2 separate regions of the Homo sapiens genome follow, and region 2 is linked to region 1. Evidence: fine-mapped expression QTL. A gene starts in region 1. The other region holds a variant in brackets. All regions are shown on one strand. Distances are between the middles of the regions.

Evidence for each region. PIP is the estimated chance that this variant, and not a neighbour inherited with it, causes the effect.
Region 2: its variant is fine-mapped to the expression of AIRIM in atrial appendage (GTEx, PIP above 0.99).

Annotation. Positions count from the first base shown.
Region 1 is chr1:37,684,957-37,695,957 of GRCh38, forward strand. AIRIM (AFG2 interacting ribosome maturation factor) reads right to left here and starts at 5,573. Exons shown (of 5, transcript NM_001350770.2): 1 at 5,046-5,573; 2 at 4,650-4,927; 3 at 1,317-1,496. The coding sequence starts at 4,924. CDCA8 (cell division cycle associated 8) reads left to right here and starts at 7,560. Exons shown (of 10, transcript NM_001256875.2): 1 at 7,560-7,828; 2 at 7,949-8,077; 3 at 10,954-10,994. The coding sequence starts at 7,735. RefSeq lists enhancers at 4,726-4,835, 4,906-4,965, 5,546-5,735, 6,301-6,811, 6,812-7,321 and 3 more and silencers at 6,614-6,673, 6,694-6,863.
Region 2 is chr1:38,252,407-38,263,407 of GRCh38, forward strand. No RefSeq gene overlaps it. Among named protein-coding and RNA genes, the nearest start is that of LINC01343, 43 kb to the left of the region's middle. RefSeq lists an enhancer at 10,107-11,001. The variant C/G (reference allele first, on the strand shown) is at 5,388.

The DNA.
Region 1 (11,001 bases):
AGACCAGCCTGGTCAACACAGCAAGACCCCATCTCCTAGGCAAAAAAAAAATTTTTTTGAGAGAAAAATGTTAGAGCTTCAACTAACTGGTCTTTCTGCTTTTACCCTTGCCCCCACTACCCCAAATCTTACCCTAGAACGAAGCCAGAATGATACTGTTAAAAACATAGGTCTTATCCTGTTACTCCTTAATCAAGTTTCTAAGAGGTTTTTCTGTCACTCGAATGCTTTTTTTTGGGGGGGGGGGGTGGGCGGGGGGTGGTTTGAGACAGGGTCTTGCTCTGTCACCTAGGCTGGTGATCACACCCAGGCTGGCAATCAAGGCTCACTGCAGCCTTGACCTCCCACGCTCAAGCAACCCTCCCACCTCAGCCTCCTGAGTAGCTGGGACTATAGCTGCACACCATCATGCCTGGCCCAAAATTCTTTTTTTTTTTTTTGGAGACAGAGTTTCACTTTATCACCCAGGCTGGAGTGCAGTGGCACGATCTCAGCTCACTGCAGCCTTGACCTCCCCCAGTTCAAGCAATCCTCCAGCTTCACCCTCCCGAGTAGCTGGGATTACAGACTTCAGGCACATACCACCATGCCTGGCTAATTTTTGTATTTTTTGTAGAGACGGCGTTTCACCATGTTGCCCAGGCTGGTCTCAAACTCTCGGGCTCAAGCAGTCCTCCCACCTCAGCTTCCCAAAGGGCTGGGATTACAGGTGTGAGCCACCACGCCCAGACCCCAAATTCTTTCAAAGACCTTCAAGGCCCTAGAAAGTCGAGCCCCCTGTCTTTCTACCCTCACCTGCTGTTAGGCTCCTCCTCATGCTCCAGTCTAGCCTCCTTACTATTTCCTGAATAGACCAGGAATGTTCTTACCACAAGGCCTTTGCATTTGATGTTTCCTCTGCCTAGTAACTTTCTCTCCCCAAATAGCCACATAGCTCTTTCCCTTACCCTCTTCAGATCTCTGCTCAAATATCACTTTCTCATGAAGCCTGCTCTGACCACCCTATTTTAAATCACAACTCCACCCTCACTCCTCACTTTCCCTGCTTTATTTTTCTCCATAACACTTATCGCCATTCAGCATTCTACTTGCCTTTTTCAATGCCTGTCTCTTTGCACCAAGAACAGTGCCTGACAGGTAGTAGCTACTCGATAAATTATTAGAGGAAGGATTATACAAAGGAATGCAGGAAGAATCCAAGTTCAGGAACCAAAGAGAACTGACTCAAACTACTTAGTTTTCCAATCTTGTGAAAACTGAAATTTGAAAGACTTAGAACAGCTCTGGCTGTGACCTGAAATGTGTGCAAAGGATACGACTTTCGATAATGTCTCTCAATATCCTGCAACCATTCCAACATGTCAGCCACAGAGGGGCTCACTGCTGAAGGCTGCAGGACAGCATCAATGCCAACTGTGTCTGCGTGTTGCTCATAGATCTGAAACACTCGCTCCACATGGCTGCTGACCATGTCTCGCACCTTGAGGAGGATGGCTCTGCAAGAAAGAGTCTGACATTAGGCAATATCATGAGACATGTATAAAGGAAGGTTTCTCAATTTTGGCACTACTGATATTTTGGACTACATGATTCTCTGTTGTGAAGGGCTGCCCTGTACATTGTAGGACGTGTAGGAGCATGCCTGGCCCCTACCCACTAAATGACAGGTGTAAACTATACCTATACCCTCCATAAGCCATAACAACCAATAATGCCTCTAGATGATGCCAAATGTCCCCTCATAGAAAAACCATCTCCAATTGAGACCACTGGTCTAAGGAGATTAGTGACAGTGTCTTGGAGGTACGGGTGGCTCAAGAATCAAGAAAGGGGCTGGGTGCAGAGGCTGTTGCCTGTAATCCCAGCTTTGGGAGGCTGAGCGGGGTGGATCACCTGAGGTCAGGAGTTTGAGACCAGCCAATGTCCCAAAACCCCGTCTCTACTAAATATACAAAAATTAGCCAGGTGTGGTGGTGCACACCTGTAGACCCAGCTACTCGGGAGGCACGAGAATCACTTGAACCCAGAGGCAGAGGTTGCAGTGAGCCAAGTTCGCGTCACTGCACTTCAACCTGGGTGACAGAGCGAGACTCCGTCTCAAAAGTGTGTGTGTGTGTGTGTGTGTGTGTGTGTGTGTGTGTGTGTGTGTGTGTGTATAGTTTTTGTTTTTGTTTTTTGTTTTTTTATTGAGATGGAGTTTCGTTCTTGTCGCCCAGGCTGGAGTGCAATGGTGCGATCTTGGCTCACCACAACCTCTGGCTCCCGGGTTCAAGTGATTCTCCTGCCTCAGCCTCCTGAGTAGCTGGGATTACAGGCATGCGCCACCACACCCGGCTAATTTTGTATTTTTTTTTCAGTAGAGACGGGGTTTCTCCATGTTGGTCAGGCTGGTCTCGAACTCCCGACCTCAGGTGATCCACCTACCTCGGCCTCCCAAAGTGTTAGGATTACAGGCATGAGCCACCGTGCCCAGCTAATATATATTTTTTTTTAATTAAAACATTTAAAAAAAAAAACAGGTGCAGTGGCATGCCTGTAATCCCAGTAGTTTGGGAGGGCAAGGCCAGAGGACAGCTTGAAGCCAGGAATTTGAGACCAGCCTGGGCAATATGGCAAGACTATCTCCACAAAAAATTTTAAAAATTAGCTAGGTATGGTGGCATGCTCTTGGAATCCCAGCTACTCAGGAGGCTGGCAGGAGGAGTTAGAGGCTACAGTAAGCTATGATCATACCGCTGCACTTCAGCCTGGGCAACAGGGTGAGACTGTCTCTAAAAATAAAATAAAAATAAATAAAAGACAAAATATTAAGTAAAGCACTCATAGGTACTCACAGCACTCCTGGGTTCAAATGATCCTCTTGTCCTTAGCCTCTCAAAGTGCTGGGATTACAGGAGTGAGGCACCGTACCTGGCCTCATCTTTTTTTTGTTTTGCTTTCCTTTTCATGGAGAATGGGATCTCACTATGTTGCCCAGGCTGGTCTCAAACTTCTAGGCTCAAGCGATCCTCCTGCCTCAGCCTCCCTAAGTGCTGGGATTACAGGCTGAGCTGCCATACCCAGCTGATCTCATCTCTTACCAGGCCTCTGCTCCTGTCATACTTTTCTCTCTTTTTTTGAGACAGAGTCTTGCTCTGTCACCCAGGCTGGAGTGCAGTGGGACAGTCTTGGCTCACTGCAACCTCTGCCTCCCAGGTCCAAGAGATTCTCCTGCCTCAGCCTCCCCTTTAGCTGGGACTACAGGTGTGTGCCACGACAGCCAGTTAACTTTTTTTATTTTTAGTAGAGATGGTGTTTCACCATGTTGGCCAGGCTGGTCTCGAACTCCTGACCTCAAGTGATCTGCCTCCCAAAGTGCTGGGATTACAGCCATAAGCCACCGTGCCGGGCCAGTCATACTATTCTCTATGCACACTACTCATACCCACGTCTTGACTCTGTTTACATCTTTTCAACCATTAGGTTTTTAATATCACTTCCTCCCCAGAAACTTCCCCACTCCACACAAGCCGTACTTATCAATATCTTAGGACATCCCACAATTTAATTCACTGATTGTTTATTTCTTCTACTCAACTAAGAACAGGAACTAAATCTGGTTCATTTTTATATTCTTGGCACCTTGTGCTTGGCATCCCACAAGGTGCCTAATGAACGTATTTTGTACAAATAAATAAAAGGAAAGTCCTCATCTGTGACAGTTTCCTATTAGTCTATGACAGACTCTATATACTGGAACTTTCTTTTGTTCCAGTTCAAGGAAAGGCCACACATGCCCTGTCTCCCCTCTGTCCTCAATAACCTGTAACTCTCAGCCTGGGCAACATAGTGAGACCCTATCTCTACAAAAAATTTTAAAATTAGCTGGGCATGGAAGTGCACGCTTGTTGTCCCAGGTACTTGGGGGGCTGAGGTGGGAGGATCGCTTGAACCAGGGAAATCGAGGCTACAATGAGCTGTGATTGTGCCACTGCACTCCAGCCTGAGTGACAGAGCAAGACCCTGTCTCAAAAAAAAAAAAAAAAAAAAATCTGTAACGCAGGCACTGGGTCTGACAACAAGCATATCAGAACTTGGAGACGTGCTACTCCTGGGCACAGAGACACCAATCTACAGCAGAACAAAGTGGTGATTAAGAGCTCTAGCCTTTGTGTCAGGCACACTTGAGTTAGAATCCCAGCTCTACCCTTTTCTAGCTGCGTCACCATGGGCAATCTGCTTAAGCTTCAGTTTCCTACCTGCATAGAATTAAGTGCAGTTAAGTCACAGATATGTTGAAGAGACTTTATAACGTAATATACATAAACCCCTTAGCTCTAGCACCTACTAAGTTTACACAGCTCCTCACTGCCTTTTACCAAAGAAAACTATAGGGCAGAGCTAATAGGCTTTCTCCGCTCCTTTTCTCTTCTTCTTTTGTGACTTCTACTAAGCCCACCACTGCCATGCCTAGTCTCTGACAAAGAAAATGCCAGAAAATGGCTTTCTGACCGAGGTCCCACTGCCCCAGATGAAGTAAGGAAGGTTGAGATACCTCCACATGCCACGCTTTCAAGGAGAAAAACACCTTCTGGACTGACACTAGCTACATATAAAACACCTCGTTTTAAAATCCTTCCACCAAGAAACAGCACTAGGGAGCTGCTTACAGCCTTTCCCCTAGCTTGTCCAGGACGATGTCACCAGCCACCAGCTGCTTACGCCTCAGCCGCTCTTTTAAATCTGGGAAGGCCCGAAGCGCCGGCACATCCTCAAACCGCAGGTTCTGTGCGGCCTGCAGCTGTTCCGCCAGGTTGCTGAGGGAGGACAGGAGGGGCTGGCAGTCCCGCAGGGCACTCTGCCACAGGCCCTGCTGCTCCTCCACCACGGGGAAGCACTTCTTCAGCGCCTCCTGCACGGCAAGCAGAGGCCGGTCTTGAGTCATCTTCTGCTGAAAAAGATAAAAACAGAAAATAACCACGTTGGGGTGCCAAGTCAGTCGGGGAGGCACTGGGTCGAGGGTGGGCGTCATCTCTGTTATCGTGTTCAGACAGGAGTTGTCTCACCTCCAGAAGCAGGGTTTTTTTTTTGTTTTTTTTTCGAGACGGAGTCTCACTGTCGCCCAGGCTGGAGTGCAGTGGCGCTATCTCGGCTCACTGCAACCTCCGCATCCCGGGTTCAAGCAATTCTCCTGCCTCAGCCTCCCGAGTAGCTGGGAATACAGGTGCCCGCCAACACGCCTGGCTAATTTTTGTATTTTTAGTAGACGGGGTTCCTGACCTCAGGTGATCCGCCCGCCTCGGTCTTCCAAAGTGCTGGGATTACAGGCGTGAGCCACCGCGCCCGGCCTGCCTCAGCTTTCTGAAGGAGACCCTGGTTTCCCCTCGGGAAGGGTAACCTGGATAGGGCAGTCTCCTGCTTCAGAGGATTCCTGGCGTCCAAGCGCCGTCTCTTCTCTGACATACAGTCCTGTCTCCCCTGCCCGAGGCTGCCGGTCGCCTTCCTGAAAAAGCGGAAAAACTTAAAAGTCCAGACAGCCAAAGCGTGAGAACCCTCCAGGGACTGCACCACGCGCCCACAGTCTCTCTGCGCATGCTCACACGCGACCTCCCCACAAAGCTACTCCGCGGGCCTGCCTGGCTACTGAGTCGCGAAAATATATCGTAGTGCCGCAATGACTTCTGGGTACTGTAGTCCAACATGTGGACTGGCCACTCGGCTTGAAGCTTCCTTGGGATTGGATGTTGGGACCGTCCAAACACGGCGACTTCTCATTTGTCAGCCTGCGGCAGTTTAAATTGGGTGGCGGTGGTGGCATGTCCTGTTAGCTGTGGAGTCTTTTCCTCTTATCTTGCGCCTCCGGTTGTGCCTTAATGACACTTTTGACATTGTGTATCACAACCAACTGGCAAAAACTAGTAAATCACGGGCTCCTGACGTGGCAGCTCTGGCTAAAATGCAGGTGGACGTCCTAGGTGCCCAGGGAGTTCGGGCTCACTGGGGAGTAGGGTGAAGGAAACCCTGAAACCGAGAGGCTGGAAGCCCGACTTGCGCAGCATAAAAACACCTGCAGGGGGAAAGCCTACATGAGGTACGGGTTGTCATCCCGTCTCATCTTGGCCATCTGACTGATGGAGATCCTCAGGCACCCAGCAGACTGGGGTGTCACCCCCACTACCCACTGCCCAGGGCTGACCTCGGGCGGAAGAGCGACATTCAAATATTTGTTGCATATGGAGCAACAGACCAGGGTGGAAGAGAGAGAAAGGACTTTCCAGGAAGGTCCAGGCTTGCCAGGACTTCTATGCTTGGACTGCTCTGTCCCCAAGCTCGCTGGTGCCCATCAGGAGCCTGCTTGGCACCTTTGCTTATTTCTTCGATTGTTCCTCAACTCAGAGGGGGAGAGGCAAGATTATCACTCCCATAGCCTATAACATGCACGCTTAAACACAACCCCTCTGACATGGCTTCAGACCGCATCCACAGGTGAAAAGCACCAAATCCAAACAATCAGGCCACAAACCCGTCAAGAGCTCGCCGGTCTGGCCGTCCAGTCGCCGCCCGCCTTGAGACTCAGCCTGAGCTACAGCTTCGAAACTAGCCTCTAGCCTTCTGGGTCTCAGCACAACTCTTGAGCAATCCAACCCTGTGGCCGTGGGCAGATACCAAGATGCACAGTTAGCACCTCCGACAGGACCGCGGCTCGGCGGGGCTCGCCGTCTACACGCCCATTCCCAGGCCCACGGCCACGACACCCAGAGCTGCCTCCTGCCCTGGGCTCCCTGGAGCCTGGTGGCCGCGGCTCATGCTGCAGTCACCGTGTGGCCAGCTGCCAAGCGCCACTACTTGCACCTGAAGTCGCAGCCCCGCGCTGCGCACCCAGTCGAGGCGCCAACACGCGAACTGGGCGGGAGTGGCCGGCCCGCGGGGGAGCGAGGAACGACAGGGTTCCCCCCACTCGCTGCCCAGACTGGCCGCGGGATAGCGCGCCCCCCCCAAAGCCTGCACCCCTGCCCTGCTCCTCTATCATTCCGTCCCCCTTGCTCTGTCAAACCCTGCCGGGGCTGCTCTGTCTCTGCCGACCCGCCACTTGCCCGAAGTTCGGCCTGAGGAGCTTGGGGCCCTGAGGAGCGCCGACGTAGGCAGCCAGCCAGTCAATCAGTCAGAGGGTCACGGCGGCCCCTCGGCTACTCAGTGGCAGCCAGGCCAGAAAGAAGCAGCCGCCAACCCTGGAGCAGAATCCTACAGCCGACCTGACCTAGTAGGCCCCCAGCCCTCCAGAGCTTGGGGTATTGCAGAGCCGCCACAAGGCCTGCCGGGAGTAGTAGTTTGTATAGTTCGCAGCCGGCCAGGGCGGAGCCGGGTGGGTTGGTGGGGAGGGCGGGGAAACAAGCCTGGACCACAACTCCCAGGAGTACCCGCGACGGCGGCGGCCTCGCTGTCGCACTCAGGCTATAGGGGGCGCATTGGGCGGAAGACCCTGGGCCGGCAGGAACTTGCTTGTGATTGGATGTTGTGGGACGGCGGCTTCTCATTCGTCAGCCTGTGACTGTGGAGTTTGAATTGGGTGGCGGTTGACTGTAGAGCCGCTCTCTCTCACTGGCACAGCGAGGTTTTGCTCAGCCCTTGTCTCGGGACCGCAGGTACGTGCCTGGCGACTTCTTCGGGTGGTCCCCGTCCGCCCTCCTCGTCCCTACCCAGTTTCTTGCTTCCCTGCCCCATCTCCGCCGCTCCCCGCAGCCTCCGCCGAGCGCCATGGCTCCTAGGAAGGGCAGTAGTCGGGTGGCCAAGACCAACTCCTTACGGAGGCGGAAGCTCGCCTCCTTTCTGAAAGACTTCGACCGTGAAGGTAAGGGGCCAGGCCGTCGCGGCCTCCTGGGGCGGTCGCGGGATGCTGGCGGGTGGGGACACGAGCTGCACAGATTCGCCCGCCCGTGACCCGTGTCCTGTCGGCTCTGCCCTCCCGCAGTGGAAATACGAATCAAGCAAATTGAGTCAGACAGGCAGAACCTCCTCAAGGAGGTGGATAACCTCTACAACATCGAGATCCTGCGGCTCCCCAAGGCTCTGCGCGAGATGAACTGGCTTGACTACTTCGGTAAGAGCTGGAGAGCTTCCCTGGGCGGAGGCCAGGAGCCCCTTGGGGTTAGGTGACACCCTTCAGAAAGGGCTCGCTCAGATGTCACCTTTTAATGAGATCTGACATGACCACTTATGGAAAATTGCAGACCCTTTCACTCTCTGTCTCACTTCCCTACTTCATTTTTCTCTATGAAAAATGGGGGGGTGGTTGGGGGGCGGCGGGCGGGGCGGTCTCTGTCGGACAACTCAGCTCTGCTGTTTACAGGTCCAAAACAGCTGTAGTGAATGGGCATGGATGGGCTGTATTCCAATAAAATTTTAGTTATGGATACACTGAAATGTGAATTTCACATAATTTTCACACATCAGGAAATTTATTTAATTTTTTTTAAACAGAGTCTCACTCTGTCACCCAGGCTGGAGTGCAGTGCAGTGCAGTGGTGCGATCCCTGCTCACTGCAACCTCCACCTTCTGGGTTCAAGTGATTCTCCTGCCTCAGCCTCTGGAGTGGCTGGGATTACGGTCGCCTGCCACCATGCCCCGCTGATTTTTGTATTTTCAGTAGAGACGGGGTTTCACCATGTTGGCCAGGCTGGTCTCGAACTCCTGACCTCAAGTGATCCACCTACATAGGCCTCCCAAAGTGCTGGGATTACAGGAGTCAGCCACTGCGCCCGGCCAGAAAATAGTATTTTTAAAAATATATGTATATTTTACCCATTTAAAAATGAATGAATAAATGACATGGTTAGTTAACCAGAGCTCAGATAGAAGAATAACCCGAAGCAGCTCCTTCTGCAGCTTATGGAAATTGCTAACCTAAAAATGGGCGCATCAGGCTGGGCGTGGTGGCTCACGCCTGTAATCCCAGCACTTTGGGAGGCTGAGGCGGGCAGATGACCTGAGGTCAGGAGTTCGAGACCAGCCTGACCAACATGGAGAAACCCTGTCTCTACTAAAAATACAAAAAAGTTAGCCGGGCGTGGTGGCGCATACCTCTAATCCCAGCTACTCTGGAGGCTGAGGCAGGACAATCGCTTGAACCTGGGAGGCAGAGGTTGCGGTGAGCTGAGAGCACGCCATTGCACTCCAGCCTGGGCAACAAGAGTGAAACTCCGTCTCAAAAAAAAAGACACATCAGTTTTCCTGGCCAGAGAAAAATCCCAGCCTGTTTCTGCACTCCCTTATTAAATGTCCGGAGAAATGCAGGAGGCTGTACTTTTCTGCTGGGTTGCCCTTTTCTGTTTTCCTTATTATTAACTATCCAGCATGTAGTCTCCTTCCTGGATAGAAATGCATGGTCTGCTCACATATTAGACATTGAATGATCCTTTTGACTTGCCCTTTTATTTATTAAGCCATTCATTTGCTTATTTCTCCAAATACTGAGCATGTGTCAGTCACAGTGCTAGGTGCTAAAGATGCACTAGGGAATAAAACAGACATTGTCTCTGCCTTCAGGAACATACAGATTAGTAGAAAAGAGCTATTAGAAAAATCCACATACAATTATGTAATTAAAAGTATAGGTACTACAAAGGAGATAGAATAGAGTAGTGGTCAGTGAGCATATTGTGCTTTCTATGCCAGATGGGCATTGTACCAAGTGTTTTACATACATTAACTAATTTTTCTTCATAACTAATAATATCCCTATTTTTCAAAATGACAAGATTAAGGCACAGAGAAATTGGACACTTTGCTCAAGGCCTCATAAGCTAGTTAGTGGGATAGTCTGTTTGAACCCAGGTATTCTGGTTTCATAGCCTGAGATCTTAACTGTTTTACAAGATACTATGAGAGTTTCTAGCAGGAGGTTCTAACCTAACTTTTTATTCTACATGTAAATCTCACAAAGACCTTTTCATTCAACACGTTTACTGTACATCTATTGACTGCTAGATTTTTGCCAGAAGCAAAGGATGTCATCTCTGGAATTCAGTCCAAGGCAGGGATGGACATTTAAACAGCTTTGAGTAGTTATTGGGTATAATGAGGGTGAGCAACTAACTCTACACTTTGCAGCAAACTGCTGAGATAGAAAAATAAGCAGGCTGGGCACAGTGGCTCACCTGGAATTCCAGCACTTTGGGAGGCCAAGGCAGGTGGATTACTTGAGCCCAGGAATTTGAGACCAGCCTGGGCAACATAACAAGACCATATCTTTAAGCTTTAAAAAAAATAATTAAAAATAAATTTTTAAAAAAGAAAAATAAGCAGAGGGCAGGGCATAGGGTGGGGATTCATGCCTATAATCCTAGCACTTTGGGAGGCCAAGGCAGGAGTATCACTTGACCCCAGGAGTTCAAAACCAGCCTGGGCAACATAGCAGGAGACCACATCTCTACTTAAAAAAAAAAAAAAAAAAAAAAAAGACAACCTGGACAACTTGGCGAAACCCTATCTCTACAAAAAAACACAAAAATTAGCCGAATGTGGTGGCGCATGCCTGTAGTCCCAGCTACTTGGGAGGCCAAGGTGGGAGGATCAGTTGAGCCCAGGAGACAGCCAAGGAGGCGCCACTCCACTCCAGCTTGGGTGACAGAGCAAGACTCTGTCTCAAAAATAAATAAAATTTAAAATATATTTTTTAAAAAGAAAAATAAGCAGAATTTTTGGGGTGATGTTTGAGCTGAGTTTTGAAGGATGAGTTAGAAATTTGTTAAGTACGGAGGTGAATTTCAGGCAGAGGAAATACAAAGTACCATGGCAACAAGTCATGAGAGTCAGTGGCACATTTGGGATATAACTTGGAGAAAGAATAGATTAGATGGTGAAGGTCCTTGAAGGTTAGACCAAGGGCTGGACCAGTTTTAGAAAGATAAATGGTACTATTAGGCAAGATGATTTATTGTTAAAATGTAATAGTAACTACAACGTTCTTTTTAAAGCCCTTGGAGGAAACAAACAGGCCCTGGAAGAGGCGGCAACAGTAAGTG
Region 2 (11,001 bases), 570 kb after region 1:
GAGGGTCAGGGTAAGCCCTTTTAAAGGAAAGCGATGCCTCCTCTATTCCCCAGTCCTGTTGCCTCTCCTTGGGCAGGAGTTGGCTCTCAGCAAAGGGCTCTAGAGCTAGGGCCAGCACTGGGTTCCATGGTTCTCCTTGGCCAGAGTCACAGATGGACAAGATCCAGTAAGAGTCATTGAATCAAGGAATGGTGGAACTGTAAGGAGTTTAGGAGACCTCTGAGCCTTAGTTATCATCTGTCAAATAGGGCTAGCATCACACCTGACTTTGGGGTTGCTACGAAGTAGAGATACTATGGACTGGGATGGTGCTGGGGCAGGTGCTCTATGGACACTATGGATGTAAGGCAGTGTCAAGGCTGTTGGTCCCCACTTCCCCCAAGTGAGATCTAGATGAAACCTGTGACTCTAATCACCGAGTCCATGGCACCTTCTCTGGAGACTGTGACTGGGTCTTTAACTACATGCTTTCCAGAGGTGCCAGAGTGCTCTAAGCTTCTTCTCAATCTATGTCCCAGGGAACTGAAGATCATACCCAAAGGCATGCCCTGAGCCAACTCAGATGCAGAGAAACTTCATCCATCCTCTTAGCCAACAATGTGTGATCTTATGCTTAGGGTTAGGTTAAGTGCTGTGCTGGAGATAGAGACAGATTGGTCATATTCCCTGCCCGCATGAAGCTCACAGTTTGCTTGGGGAGACAGACAAGATTACAGGTGATCCCAAAGCAGAGTGATACAAAACCAATCAGAGAAGGAAAGGAAATAGCCTGCTGGAGCAATCAGGGAGGGCTTCAGTTGAATAGGAATTCCCTGAGTGGCAAAAGTGGGGAAAGGCAGGAGCTGCCTGTGCATAGGCAGGAGCATGTGAACAGGAGGTTATGTGAGGAGGCAGGGCAAGAAATGAGACCAGAAAAGCAGGCAAGGGTTAGCTGGCGTAGGGCCATGATGAGACTTGCTAAGCAGCCTAGGCTTTATCAGGGAGGCAACTGCAGCCATTGACTAGAGTTTTAGGGAGCACCCAGTATATGCCAGGCTACAGCATGAGGCATATTTGATATGGCTGTTTTGCTACCCAAGTGGCTGCATCAAAGTGTGAAAGACACTGTTTTCCATTACCAAGTCACGTGACTATCAGGCATGCTCCACTAATCCTCATCTCTTTCCTGGTCCCTCACTCTCTCTGGTCTCTCCTATCTTTTCTCAAGTCTCTTCATATATATATATATATATATATATATATATATGAAGAGACTTGAGTCTTGAGTACTATATATATATATATATATATATATATGAGTTTTGTGTTTTTAGTAAAGACGAGTTTCACCAAGTTGGCCAGGCTAGTCTCGAACTCCCAACCTCAGGTGATCTGCCCACCTCAGCCTCCCAAAGTGGTGGGATTACAGGCTTGAGCCACCAGCCTCTTACCATCTTTTATTGCATCCTGAAGCCTCCTGTATCCTTCAGGCCCAAGGATGGAATGATGCTCTGAGATGGCTATCATACCTATTATTTGATAACAACAAAGAACAAAATGTTAAATGATTTGTTTTATAAGCCGCATCAAAAATCCTTCCTGGAGATGGCTCCATAAAAATCTCTAAGTCTGTTGCAGTGAGCTGAGATCGCGCCACTGCACTCCAGCCTGGGTGACACAGCAACACTCCGTCTCAAAACAGAACAAAACAAACCTCTAAGTGTCACGAAACCATTCTAGGCATGAAGCCAGGCACTGCAGAGACAAAGAGGAATGAGTGTGGTTCCTCTCAGGTAGCTTCCACTTAATGAGGGGGATGGACAAGGAAACCACTGATTTTATCCAGTGTTGTAGGAGTTTAATAAAGGTAGCAGAGGGAGACTGGTTTGTGGGGAGCCACAGGAAGTAAGAGAACCGTGCCCAGCCTAGGGAGTAGGGGCATTTTGAGAAGCATCTTAGGTCAGGTTTCCTGGAGACAGACTCTGAGATGGAGATTTGTATGGGGGAAGTTTACAGGAAATGGTTCTGGGAAGTCATGCCCATAGGGAGATGAGGGAAGCGCCCTGGCCCCGGAGAGGTTTAATTGCTAAGCAGTTGCACCGGAGGCCTCAGCCAGTCTCACAGGGAGTCCTGGAGCTGGGAAGGACAGAGTTGTCCAGAACTGAGGCAAAGGGCTGGGCCTATACTCTATACCAACCAGTCACTGGATGTGGGTGCCCCAGGGATGGGGCATAACCATGAGGGAGGCAGCCAGTGCTCCTGCTCCCAGCAGCTGGGAATGAGCACCTTGGTCCTGAGAGGAGATCTGGGTAGCACACTACAGTATCCACTACAGAGGGCCTCCCAGAGGGCAAGGCCTACACCCAGACTTGAAGAAGGAGCAAGACTGCTTCTGATGAAGTTGTTGTTCATGGCGGTGGTGGTGGTAGTGGGAACAGCATATGCAAGGCTCAGAGGCCTTATTTTTTGGGAAAAGAGCAAGTAATTTAATGTGGCTCAAGGCCAGAGCTCAGAGGAGGGCAAAAGAAGGGGCTGGGTAAGTAAACAGGGGGCAAAACCCCTGAAGGGCCCCATTTGACAAAACCAGGTTCAGAATCTCGAACTTTGTCACACCGTGATGAGGAGCCACAGAAGGGATATGATCTGATATGTCCTCTAGACTCAGTCTGGCCGTGCATGAAGGCAGCAAGACAGATGGAGGGGAGGATCATTAGGCAGGTTTTGCAGTAAGTCCTGAACTTACTATAAGATTGACAATATGGTGGAAAGAAGTAGAGGATTAGGAAACATTTAGGGGGTAGAACTGATCCAATTAGTGACTAATTAGATATAGGAGTGTCTCTTCTAACTCTGCATGTATTAACTCATTTATGGTTCACAACAACTCATGAGGTGGGCCTATTATCTTCATTTTGCAGATGAGGAAACTGAGGCTCAGAGAAGTTAAGTGACATGCTATGGTCACACAACCAGTAAATGGTAGAGCCTGGATCTAAACCCAGACATTCTTGCTTCGCAATTTTCTGTGGGAGGAGGGGCATTTTGGGAAGCTTCTTTAGGTCAAGTTTCTAGGAGACGAACATCATCTGTCAATCAGATGGATGATGGCACTGTTTTAAGGAGTTCAAGGACACAGGAAGAGACCTGGCTGGGGAGGACTATGGTGAATGATGACATTTGCTGCGATCGCTGTAAGTCACCTGAATAGAGATGTTCAAAGGGCAGGTGGTGACATGGGTCTAAGTCAGCAGAGCACTGGCCAGAGTGAGAGATTAGGGGCCATAGCCTTTAGGTGACAAATGAAGCTGAACTCACTCAGGGAGAAGGCTTGGATTGGGAAGAGAACACAGGTTGGAAATAAGAAGAATGTGGATAGTTACGAGAAAGACAAAGGAAGAAACATCTGTCTAGGAAACCAAGAGGGACCAGCCAGAGATTTTGGAGGAAACTCGGAAGAGTTGTCATGGAAGCCAGAGGAGGAGAATGCTTTCAGAAGGTGTGAAGTGTCAGAGGCTGCAGGGGCGTCCTCTGATAAGGACTAAAAACTGCTCCATTTACTGAGGCAGAGACTGGGCTGCCCCAAACACCCACCATCCTGGAGAAAATGGAAGACTGAAGCACAGGATCTAAACGGCAGCTTCCTCACTCTCTTGGTAGGAGTAGAAGTGGAAAGCATTCAAACGAAATCTCTTCTTGGAGATTGATTGGAGCAAACACCCCGTTTATCATTTCCTCCGGGATTTCACTAGCACCTCTCTGCTGAGATAGGAATCTGAGACTTGTCATCCAAAGAGGGGAGACAGATCGTGACAGCCCATCCTCTGAAACCTGTCTGCTGCCTTCACACCTGGAGAACCCCCGGAGGCAGGGGGCGCCAGTGGGTGGGCGCGGGAGTGGCCCCCACCGTGACTGCTCCCCTCAGCTCCTGCAGGCAAACACCTGGAGCCCTCCTAGCAGGCCCAGGGTTGTCCTGGGACAGAGCCCCACATCTGAAGCAGGGGTGTGTGACTGCACCATATCCAGTTCTGATGCTATGCCCTGCTCCTCCTGCAAATACCCATGTCACATGCACACACGCACACACATAGGCATACACATGCACACACAGCCTGGCTGCTGTAAGCCATCACTCTCTGTGCTGGGGAGGCCCCTGGAGTAGAGGAAAGTGTACTGGGTTGGAGCTACCTCTCACACTTCATACCAGCCAAGTGACCTTATGCCAGTTACTTCACCGCTTTGCATCTTTGTTTCCTCATTTGATAAAACAAGGTTCCATTTTTTTTTTGGAGTGCTTGATATGCAATGACTATAGTAATAACAGTACTTATTAAGTGCCAGGGACTATGCAAAATCCTTTACACACATTTTCTCACCTTACCCTCTCCATAACTCTGTAAGGTAGGTTATGTTATTATTGCCATCTTATATAGAGGGAAACTAAGTCTGTAGAGGGCAAGTAATTTTGCTGAAAACCTCATGGCTTGTAAATGGCAGAGCTGAGATTTGAACCCAGGCAGTTGGATCCTGAGTTCTTAGCCCTTTCTTTCCCTCTGATTTTTTCTTTCCAATCCCGTCCTCACATGCAGTCAGAGGCATCTGCTTGTATTACCTATGTCTGCCTATGTTACTCCCCAGCCTAAAGCAAGCATTGGCTTTTTTTAGCTGTATATTAAAAGCCAAATGCCTTCACTGGACCTTCGAGGACTCACTTGTAATCCTCCCTCAAACGGGCCTCAGACCCTAGCCCCTGGCCAGCTGTGCTGTTTAGCAAACATGCTGTGTGTGTTCACATCCAGGACAAAGGTTGGGGGTCCTGGAGGCCAGGGCCCAAATTGTCTCATCTCTGAGCACCTCCTCCAACTCCTACATCTCCTCTTCTACTCCTGCTCCTTCCCCTATCCTAATTTGTAATGAATGTTTGTGCAATAAAAAGCTAACCATAGAAATAACAATAGCAGTGGGAATACCAGGAAAAGTTAAACAGGGCAGATCACAAGCCCCGACTGAGGGCCAGCTATGTGTCTGACTTTGTGCTTGGCCCTACGGGGCAACAGCAAACTAAGGCATCAGTCTCTATTCTTAAGGAGATGACTGTCTACATGACACGCAGGACACAAGGAGATGCTGACAAGCGCAGCCTTGATGCTAGCTGGGGGTTGTAGCCAAACAAGAAAGCAAGGAGAAATCAGGGCAGACTTCCTGGGGGAGATGGCATTGGCACTGAGACTTAGAGGGCTGGGATAGGAGAGGGCATTCTGAGACGGGAGAGAGGTGCACATTAAAGTGCTTCAGTCTCCCCTAGGTATCCCCTCACCCACACCCCATGTGCCTGGCAGCCATGGCTCCATATCCCCCCACCAACTCTGCCAACCCTAGCAGTCTCGCCTCCCACCACTCCAGCAGGTGAG[C/G]CTTCCTTCAGTTTCCTCATCCTGTCTTGGTCCCCCTGATGGCAGTTCCCTTGACTGGCTAGCTCCCAGTGATGCTTCCGTCTCATCTTAAACACCACTTCCCCTGGCACTAGGTTGTCTGGGCACCCTCCTTGCTGTTTTCGCTGCATCTTCTGCTTTTCCCAGCATGACACTTGCCAGCCTCGCTGGTGATGGCTTAGTTCATTGGCCCCACCAGTTGGTGAACATGGGGAGACCAGGATCTGTGTTTATCCTACCACTGTCTCCCCTGGCACCTGTACACAGTAAGTGCTCCATAAATGTCTGCAGAATTAATGACGAAGTGCTTAATAAATGCTTCTAGGCTTCTTCTTATCACTGTCTTGAACACCCTGGTCAACATGTCCTCCTCTGCCATTGTCCCTTGCCCTGGTCTTCTGGGTCCTGGTTCCAACTCCAGTCCAAGAGTGAAGAGTTGTGCCCGGGCAGGCCCCAGGGATGCTAGTGCTGTCTTGAGAACAGCGCTGTGAAAGCCACAATGGGCCTGATCTGGAGCGCTTGTCCCTGCTAATTATTACGGACAAGCCTCCTTATTGAACCTCGTCCTCTTATTGACATTCGGATGCATGAGCCGAGGCTGTTGTTTTAAACGCGCTCATTAGCCACACAAATCAGTCCTGTTGACAGAGCGCCTTTGAATTAAGCATCTCGCCATAGTCATTGGACAAGGAGCAATTTATAATGCCATTAGCAACGCTTTCGAAGGTTACAGGCATCAAAAATTGTTCAGCCGTAATTATTCTTAATGGATACAAGGAATAAACTGACGCAGGACAGCTTTTTCATTAGCCTTCAATCAAGGCTGATGGCTTTGAGAAATGTACAGTAAGTGCGTTTTGGGGAGAAATAATGATGTTACAGCACCTTTCCCAGGAAAATGCTCTGGGTACACAGCTTAACTTTTAATGGCCTTAATTTGACATAATTAAAAAAAATTTGAATTTGTTTTTGAAGATCTTGAAATAAATTATTTGGTTCCCATTTTTAACCCTTTGGGGAACTGGTGCTAAATAGCAGTCAGGGAGTGAGGAGGCCAGTCTCTGCAAATGAAGGTACTATTTAAGGAGTTGGGGTTTGCAGGGCAGTGGTCACCAGAAAGCCCACCTGGACTGCAAGCATGAGAGCTATGCCTCCACCCCAGGATTTCCAAGTGACCTTGGGAGAAAGGATTGGCTTTCTGAGTAGCCAGGCCCAGAGGGTTTATTTCCGTGGAGTTATTTGCACCATCTAGGAAGTGGGGCCCATATGAGGAGGGAGAAGGGAATCCTATGCCCTGAGATAGGGTGGGCTACAGACATGCAGAACTGGGAATAAACCCTGGTCCTGAGCTGTGGGACCCCAGGCAAGTGACTGCATCTCTCTGAGCCTCAGTTTCTTCATCTGTGAAATGAGGATGACAATTCCTACATCTTGGGGCCATGGTGGGGGTTTGATGAGATAAACGATATGAAAGCCACTGGCCGGTGCCTGGCACACAGTAGGTGCTCAATGAATGTTCATTCCTGAGGTCAGGGACTTGATCCACCTCACCATGGTAGTTCCCATTGACCAAGGCTAGGGCACCCAAAATGCTGGAAATCTAATAATGTGGGGTCAATTATGTTTTCTAGAACTTGTCTCAGGGAGGACACTGGATATGGCTGAACAGAAGCTGCTTGGGAGTGAGGGGCAGGGATAAGGTATCTCCTTGCACTGCCATTCCCCCTGCCTGAGACCAAAGGAAAAATAGGTGCCTTCTAAACTGCCCTCTAAGGAGAGTGGGTTAGCTGAATCCAGGGCTTTTGCTTTGCTAAATGAGGGCATGCAAGTTTGGGGTGGAGCATAATTGCTGGGATAATGAACATGGCACAAATTAGGAGAGGCCACACATCTGCTTTCTGTAACTTTCATCAGGCAGGACTCAATTTATCCCCAAAATAAATGATGAACAAATCCTTTAAGTCTATCAGATTGAAGTTGGGTCAAAATATAACCTGCCTGGAGCACTCATGTGTCTGGTCTAGGCCTGATAGTACCAAGAAGGTACCCACACAGAATTCACACTAAGTCACATTGAGTGACTAGCATCCAGTAGGCTTTAACAGTGCCTCCTGGGGCTTGTTGGCAGTGGCAGACACAGTGGAGCAGCCTGGTGCCAGGCCAACAGACCTGGCATCTAGCTTTGTCCCTGCCACTGCCCACCATGTGACCTTGGACACAATGCCTCTTTCCTCTGCATCTCAGATTCCTTATCTGGAAACGACAGAGCAGCTGGAAGTCACTGCTTCAGACACCAGGAAAATTCAAACTATCAGGATGTATTCTCCCTCAAGCCTGCCTAAGAGCAGATGAAAGCCAAGTCAAAGGCTTAGGAGAGTTTTTTGGTGAAATACTGTGAATAAGAAACATTCTGTCCATTGGTTTGGTGCTTTCTGTGGCTTGGGAGATGTGGCCACTGTTGCACTCTAGTAGGTTGTGGGGCATCTGTGCTTAGCAGAACTTTATCTTGGGCTCTACTCATGAACAGGCTTGGGGCCAAACACTGAAACAGTGCCTGGGCAGATCTGGGTTCCACTCCAAGCTTGGTCAACTAATCTTTTGGGACTTCAGCTTCCTTATCTTTGCAACCTATGGAATTCAGACTTAACCTTGTTTATCTTTTCCTTCCTCCCTCTCCTCCTCTCCCTTTCCCTTCCCCTCCTTTTCCCTTCTTTCCCTCTACTCCTTTTCTCTCCCCTTCTTCCCCTCTCTTCTCCTCTCTTTTCCCTCCCTCTCTTTCCTTTGTCATTTTTCCCTCCTTCCCCCCTTTTTTTCTAGCTGCCAAACCCAATTTTCAAGAGTCATCTTACACAGGTGCCTAATATATGAAATAAAGATGGAGCTCTTCTGCTTGAAATGTGGTGGAGTTCCCAGAGTCTACCTCCGCAGCTTCCCTCTAAGGTTTCTCTACAGACCCACAAGGCTCCTCAGAGCATGGCTGACCCCTCATGAGATGGCTCTGTCCTTCCCTTGAGGTCTCATCTCCTGCTGTCTCCTCTTGCCCTCCTCCTCCCTAACACTGGCCAACCTGCCATTTCCCAACTGTGCTAAGTCCTGTCACTCTTCTCTGCCTTTGCTGGAGCTGTGCCCTCTTCCTGGGATGCTCTTGCCTTTTTCTGTGACTGGAAGACTCCAGCTAATCCCTTAAAGCTGACTTCTCAGGAAGCCTCACCTGAGAGCCCTATGCAGAACAAATCTCTCACCCATATTGGCCCCTGCAGGACTTTATTAACCAACTGGCAATAGATAGCTCAGAGGGTATTTTAGCTAATGAGTCACATGTCTTTCTTCTTGGACAAACTACAAATGCCTTATGGGCAACTGATTGAGCTTTATGCCCCAGGACTTGGCATTAACAGCACCTGCTGGGAGGTGCCCACACAACATAGGACCTGGTGCACCTCGGAAGCCCTGCCATTCTGGGATCTGGCACACAGTCGGTGTCTACCTAGCATAGGTGCTGGTGTATGCAGGTGACACCCAGCCTAGGGCATGGCACAGAAGAGGAACTCATGGGACTTGGCACACAGTGGGAGCTTGCCCAGAGCAGGTTCTGGCTCTTGGATGCTCAGGAAATGTTTGCTGAAAGGAAATTCAGTGGAATGGAAGCCCAGTTCTGGGAGAGCAGCTGGCTTCTCCCCAGTCAGAGTAGGCGGTATTTTCCCTCCCTTCACCCCTGGTGGAAAAAGCAAATGTGATCTCCTCTCAAAGCCAGGAGCAGACAGGGCTGCAGGTTGGGGGTGATGGGAGAGGTCTCTGAGGTAATGAGCAGATACTGTTTCCTTATCACCATCGGCATGTTCTCAAGCTATTACTCCCGTCACCCTCCATTTGGACTTTTTCTGATAAACACCAATATCTGCAAATTCTTGAGGCTGACTGCCTCCCCAACCCAGGGGCTGCTCTGCTGGAACTCCAGATGTGTGATAAGGCAGGGAAATACATTTTCAGTCCACTAAGTCATCACATTTTCTGACAAGGATGCTCAGGCGCGTGTAGATCTCTGATGACTAATATTGCCTTCACTCAGCAGAGGGCTTCAGAAACCATCCAAACCATCACCAGGCTGTCAGGTGTCAGCTCTTCCCCTGGCTTTGCATATTGAGAGGCCCTCTGAGGAGCTCGAAGTCCTGATACAGCAAGGCGGGGGGCTCCGTGTGGAGGAAGAGGGCTGGCCAGCGGTCAACAGTCCTTGCGCCCGGCCTGCTCTCTCTCCTTGGGTGCCCTTGGTTGCCCTATGAACCTCTCTGGGCCTCAACTTCCCCACCTGTCCAAGGGGGAGAGATGGATTCCATGATCTCTAGGGGACTTTCCAGGGCTGAAAGTCTGATTTTCTTACTTTTCCACCATTAGGAGCACAGGAGGGTAGAATCCCATGAAATGTAAGGGAAGGCTTAGAATTCTGGGGAAAATGTAAGAGTAGTAGCTGTATTCATAATAACAATAATAGTAACTACCCCTTCCCATAAGTTACTTCATCTCTTTAGAGCTCTAGAATTAGGCAGACCTGGATTCAAAGCCCTATTGTGTCCCCCACTAGCTGTGTGATGTTGGGCAAGTTATCTAACTTCTATGAGCTTCAGTTTCCTCCCATGAAATAGGCAGAAGCCCTGCGATTCGGGGATCTGGCAATGTAGACAGTTGGTGTCTACGTAGCATAGGTGCTGGTATATGGGGTGACACCCAGCCTAGGGCATGGCACGAAGGAAGCACTCATGGGGCTTGGCGCATAGTGGGAGCTTGCCCAGTGCAGGGCCTGGCTCTTGCGTGCTCAGGAAATGTTTGCTGAATGGAATTTCAGTGGAATGGAAGTTAAGTTAGAACACTGGGAGCAGCAATACATGTTGCCTTTTTTTTTTTTTTTTTAGACAGAATCTTGCTCTGTTGCCCAGGCTGGAGCGCAGTGGCATGATTACAGCTCACTGCAGCCTTGGCTTCCCCAGGCTCAGGCGATCCTCCCACCTTAGCCTCCCAGGAAGCTGGGACTATAGGTGCACACCACCACACCAGCTAATTTTTTGTAGAGACAGGGTTTCACCATGTTGCCCAGGCTGGCCTCCAATGCCTGGGCTCAAGCGATCCTCCTGCCTCAGGCTCCCAAAGTGCTGGGATTACAGGCGTGAGCCATCGTGCCCAGCCCATGTTACCTTTTAAAAAAATCAATGTTAATAATGATTCTTATAACACTTCTTATGAGGTCATGATTGCTCTCCTGATCTTACTGGTGAGTGAAATGAAGCATAGAGAGGTGAAGTAACTTGCCAGAAAGGGAGAGCTTGGGTTTGTCCATATTTGACCCAGTTTCATGCACTTAACCCCTGCACCCTGCACCACTGAAAGATGCACCCTCAGCTCACTCACTCTGCTCCCCTTGCTCAAGCCAGCCTCAGGCAGCCTGCATTGGTGCTTATGGAAAGGCAGATGAATGGTAGAGAGCCAGTGAGTTGGGCAGGATGATGGAGAAGCAGCCAGCCTTGGAGGGGCTCCAGACTGCTAAGGGGGTGGGTGAGCTGGGACTGAGGCATGGAAGAAGTCATCTGGTCACCACAATTTGTAC